2 separate regions of the Homo sapiens genome follow, and region 1 is linked to region 2. The links come from fine-mapping of genetic effects on gene expression. A gene starts in region 2. The other region holds a variant in brackets. All regions are shown on one strand. Distances are from middle to middle. Region 1 overlaps CEP20 (centrosomal protein 20). Region 2 holds the start of CEP20 (centrosomal protein 20).

Region 1 (2,863 bases), 21 kb before region 2:
TATTCACACATACAATACAACGGAATTCATCAATGTAATCAGATATTGCAGATTTAAAAATGGAAAATGGACTCTTGCAATACTTCTGCATCCATATATAATTTTACCAGCAGGGCCTCCCAAAATGTTGTGTAAGTATAGTTTAAATGGATTTCATTAATAAGTTTCTGCATTTAGATAAAAATTCTTGGCTAATCTGTAAGAAGTGAACACTGACTAGCATTGCCAAACAGAAAATCAAAAGTTTCAACAATTTGCAAAGCAGCACAGAATTGACACCCTAAAGAGGATGCCAATTTTGCTAACTACAGCTCTTACCACTCTTCTCCATGGAAAACCTTTAAGCTAAATGTTGTCAGTGTTTAGGTGTGCAGGCAAAATTTAATTCTGAATATACCATCGAACTTTTGCCAATCAGGAGCTGTCTATCATCATAGTCAGTTGTTTTCAATGAAATGAGCCTGTGGACACTACATTAAAAATACTTCTTTAATAAATATCGAAGTAGCGTATTAGAGATAGCACATACTATTTTTCTATCCCAAGAATAAAAATTGATGTTTGGTAAGAGTTTCGGAGCCCAAACAAGTAGGGGGCTGGCCCTCTTCTGGCTCATCTGTGATTGCACAACCGAGGGCCACACGGAGATTAAACAATGCCATCTTTGAAAAATCCCTTTCTGGTATTTCTCCCAAAGCCTGTCTCTTCATGCTTACTTCACATTCTTTATCTAATAAAATAAACTCTTTGTTTTATTTACAGCAAAATTATTACAGCAAATTTACTTCTCCTCTACCTTTTAATTAAATCTTCCAGTAAGCCAAAGTCTAAGGAAAGAAAAAGTACATTGTTGCCTATTGAAAAGGTAATACAAAGCCCTTTCATTTCCTTACAAACTTTAAGGGCCTTTATAATACTTCCTAAATGGCTGGGCTCAGTGGCTCACACCTGTAATCCCAGCGCTTTGGGAGGCTGGGGCACACAGATCACCTGAGGTCAGGAGTTCAAGACCAGCCTGGCCAGCATGGTGAAACCCCATCTCTACTAAAAATACAAAAACTACTCCGGTGTGGTGGCACAGGCCTGTTTTCCCAGCTACTTGGGAGGCTGAGGCAGGAGAATCACTTGAATCCGGGAGGCAGAGATTGCAGTGAGCCGAGATCGTGCCACTGCACTCCAGTCTGGGTGACAGAGCGAGACTCCATCTCAAAAAAACAAAAAATACTTCGTAAAAACAATACTTTTTTTTTCAAGTCAAATCCAATAAGCTAGATGACAAGAGTTAGCTTTTATTCACAAATGTAGTTAAACATGAGGGGTGTTTTGTAGAAACTCCAATTTCTACAAACATTAGTGGTGCATTTTGGTAACATTG[G/A]GACAATAAATAAGTTATTTAATTAATAATACAATTTTAAGACAAAAGATACCCCAAACAAAGCATTATCTGTTGACTGCCTGAGAAACATGAAGATCTTCAATGTTAGTACTTTTCTGTTCCTCCTTTCTTAGGTGGTCATCTGAAATGCACAGAAACCAATGTTAATACTTATCCCAAGTCAAAACACACAGATAGGTAGACATAGCTACAAATATCTTAGGATGTTACATATTTAATATTCTATGAGTACTTTAGATGGTTTAGGACAATGAAAAAAACCCATTATTTTTTAAACACTATTGAAGAAATCAGAGGCCAAGCGTGGTGGCTCACGCCTGTAATCCCAGTACTTTGGGAGGCCGAGGTGGGTGGATCACCTGAGGTCAAGAGTTATAGACTAGTCTGGCCAACATGGTGAAACCCCGTGTCTCCTCAAAATACAAAAATTACCCGGGCGTGGTGGCAGGCGCCTGTAATCCCAGCTACTCGGGAGGCTGAGGCAGGAGAATTGCTTGAACCTGGGAGGCAGAAGTTGCAGTGAGCCAAGATCGTGCCATTTCACTCCAGCCTGGGCAACAAGAGTGAAACTCGGTCTCAAAAAAAAAAAAAAAAAAAAGAAAGAAATCAGAAATGTCTGGCATTAGGGACTCTAATTATTCAAAAGAGTTTCTTGACTTTTTTTTTGAGTAGAGTACAACCTGCAGTAAACCCATGCATAAGTAGTTACAAACCTCTCTCTTACATGTAAGGAATGAAATTTGCAAGAAAGGACAAGGTGTTCAATCAGCATTTTGAGGGTTGCCAAAGCTCTTCAATTACAACACAATGAAAACCACTTCAAATAGATCACCTGAGGTCAGGAGATAGAGACCCTGTCTCTACTAAAAATATAAAAATTAGCCAGGCGTGGTGGCGGGCACCTACAATCCCAGCTACTTGGGAGGCTGAGGGCAGGAGAATCGCTTGAACTCAGAAGTGGAGGTTGCAGTGAGCCGAGATCGTGCCACTGCACTCCAGCCTGGGCGACAGAGCAAGACTCTTGTCTCGAGAAGAAAAAAAAAGAACCTAGAGACTTAATATCCTAATGCAACAAAAATGTAATGCAAAAACTAGATTCTTGAGAATATATGAACCCCAAACACTTTCTACAACTGATAAAACATCTTTCTTGCAACAACTTTGATAATAGGAAAAAATATATACATAAATTTAGATAAGCTGCTAGAAAATGCAATTTTATCACTGGGTTTTCTAATTCTACAATGTGATTATACACACGCTTTATTAGTTCTCAGCTGCTTATTCTCAGTGCCAATACTACTTTAAGGGTCTGGAAAACAGATGGAAATCTCTCTCCCTTTATTTTAGGTAACTTTGCTGGACAGAAAAAAAATTAACAATTTCCTCAGAAGGTAACAATTTTAGGTCTTCTAGAAAAGTGTTATAAAAAATGAAGTCTACTATGCTTGATAGATGTGCAATAAA
Region 2 (2,916 bases):
GGCTCAAGCGATCCTCCCAAAGTGTTAGGATTACAGGCATGAGCCACTGTGCTTGGCCCATTCCAAGTGTACCTTTAAATCCTCTGAAAATGTATGCAATATTACATGTGATGTGTATTTCCCTGGGAACAGCATCTGTAGACTCGTGAAGTCTGTTCTTGTGGACAGATGCATGCCTGTTCTGTTTTATGATTGTTCACCAGCCCTGTCCCCAAATACACACTTTTATACACGTCTCCTCCCTAAAATATCTAAGAATTACTAGTTTAAACCCTGGGTTCCCTGCAAAGTGGAACTGGTTTTATTTTTTGGACAGCAATCTTGCTCAGTGATTAAGACCTGGCGCTCCAGTGCGTCACAACTAGGTTCCCATGCTGTGTCTCTTTCCAGTGAAATCACTTTGAGCTATTTCACTTCTCAGTACCTCGTTTCCCAGTCTATGAAATGGGCATAGGGTTGTTACAATCAGGTAACACACAGGCTGAGTTGAGTAGTGCCTGACACATGAGGCTCAATGATAACTATTATTACTATTACTTGTCTGGACATTTGCTTCAAAGTAAACAGCGTACAAATGTCATTAATGACTCAAACATAACTAGCTTAGAGTATCTTTTCCTGAAAAGACAGGAGAATGGCCAGGCCAGCAAACTTTTTGCCTCTAGTTTCTTCTGATGAAAAAGGGGCCAGGCGCTCACACCTGTAATCCCAGCACTTTGAGGGGGCCAAGGCAGGAGGATAGCTTGAGACCAGGAGTTCGACAGTAAGACCCCGTGTCTACAAAAAATACAAAAATTAGCCGGGCGTAGTGAAGAGCCCCTGTATTCCCACCTGCTCTGGAAGCTGAGGTGGGAGGATAGCTGGAGTCCCGGAGTTCGAAGCTGCAGTGAGCTGTGATCGCGCTACTGCACTCCAGCCTGGGCGACAGAGAGACCCTCTCTTTAAAAAAAAAAAAAAAAAGCAAGGAGGGGAGGGCTACTTAACAGGTTGTTGTAAGGACCCAACGAGACAACCAAGCAAATTGTTTAGGGCAGTGCCTAACCCAATAGGGGTTGTGGGAATTGTAGTCATCAGCCCTGAGTGCCAAGCCTGGTCCAAGTCCTCCAGCCCCCGGCAGGGTCCAAGAAGATGAGCCAGGGGCCCAAGATGCAGGCCTGTAGGCCTCTTAGATGCCTGAAGATTACGCAACTCCTCCTTTAGCTCCAAACTGGCTTAAAACTCGCCAGTGGGCAACCTCTTCCCCATAAGAGCTCCCCGCGCACGGGCCAAGACAGCAGCCAGACGCTCCCCGCAGGCCCTCACACCGAAGAATGACGCCTGTAAAAGCCAACCCATGTGTTCCGCGCGCTCTCCTCCCATCCCATCCTTTCCACAAGATGAAGGCCCGACGCTTCCCATGTGGAGGCCTCCCTGCTCGCACTCACCAGCCTTCAACTCTGCCACAGTCGCCATTTTTCAACGGCCGCCAGGGCCGCACCGCGGCCCTGCGCACGCGCAGCTCCGCCCCACTCACCCTGCGGCGTGGTCTGTAGCCAATAGGCGCACAGCTCTCGCCCCGCCCACTTCCGCCCCTCTCAGTTTATGAGCTCTGCGGTTGAGTGGGTAGTGAATGTCGACCAGAGACTCCACCAATCAGCGAGCGCTCTCGGAAGGCCCAGTTGAGTGAGACGGCAGGGAGGGCGGGGACTGAGGCAGTGGAGAGCCCTGTGGGGTGCTGCTGGCACCTTAGTGCTTAACTTTAGCCAGCTGAGTTTTTCATTGTCTCTGCAGCCTCAAGTACCAACTGCTAGTAGTTACCACCTATTAACCCTGCGGTTCTCAAACTTGAGCATGAATCCTCATCACCTCCAAGACTTGTTTAAACGGATTGTTTGCTAGTCCTCCCCATAGAGTTTCTGATTCTGTAAATCTGGGGTGAGGCCCTAGGATTTGCATTTCTATCGAGTTCCCAGGTGGTACTGGTACTGCTGGTCGGTCTGGAGATCACACCTCGAGAACCACTGTATTAAGCACTTACTGTGACGCCTTAGCGCATTATTTCCTTATGATCACGCCGTTTTTACAATGAAGGAAACAGAGTCCTCCATCGCTGAAGAGACTTAACCAAGGTCACCAGCCTGTCCTCTTCCACTCGCACTTACACAGTGCATGTAAGGAGTCCAGGAGCTTTTTATGGAACTAACTAATGAAGGAATAAGCTCCAACATCCCATGGAAGTAAAGGAAAAGGAACAGGGGAATAATGTACCCTAAACTGAGTGTGAGGTTGCATGATTCCAGTTGTAATGCCGGTGAGATCCAAACACTTGGCTAAATAATAAACATCGATTAGACGTACACCTAAGAGTGGCCGGGCGCGGTGGCTCACGCCTGTAATCCCAGCACTTTGGGAGGCCGAGGCGGGCGGATCCCGAGGTCAGGAGATCGAGACCATCCTGGCTAACACGGTGAAACCCTGTCTCTACTAAAAATACAAAAAATTAGCCGGGCGTGCTGGCGGGCGCCTGTACTCCCAGCTACTCGGGAGGCTGAGGCAGGAGAATGGCGTGAACCCGGGAGGTGGAGCTTGCAGTGAGCCGAGATGGCACCACTGCACTCCAGCCTGGGCGACAGAGTGAGACTCCGTCTCAAAAAAAAAAAAAAAAAAGTACACCTAAGAGCTGCCAGGGCACGGTGGTTTACGCCTGGAATCCCAGCACTTTGGGAGACTGAGGTAAGGAGTTCGAGAACAGCCTGGCCAGCCTGGTGAAACCCCCTCTGTACTAAAAAAAAAGTACAAAAATTAGCCGGGCGTGGTAGCAGGAGCCTGTAATCCCAGCTACTTGGGAGGCTGAGGCACAAGAATCGCTTGAACCTGGGAGGCAGAGGTTGCAGTGAGATGAGATCGCGCTACTGCACTCCAACCTGGACGACAGAG

What was found. PIP is the estimated chance that this variant, and not a neighbour inherited with it, causes the effect.
Region 1: its variant is fine-mapped to the expression of CEP20 in whole blood (TOPMed, PIP 0.95).

Annotation. Positions count from the first base shown.
Region 1 is chr16:15,866,000-15,868,862 of GRCh38, forward strand. CEP20 (centrosomal protein 20) reads right to left here. Exons shown (of 5, transcript NM_144600.4): 5 at 1-1,517. The coding sequence ends at 1,441. Among named protein-coding and RNA genes, the nearest start is that of MYH11, 10 kb to the left of the region's middle. The variant G/A (reference allele first, on the strand shown) is at 1,376.
Region 2 is chr16:15,887,134-15,890,049 of GRCh38, forward strand. CEP20 (centrosomal protein 20) reads right to left here and starts at 1,470. Exons shown (of 5, transcript NM_144600.4): 1 at 1,425-1,470. The coding sequence starts at 1,452.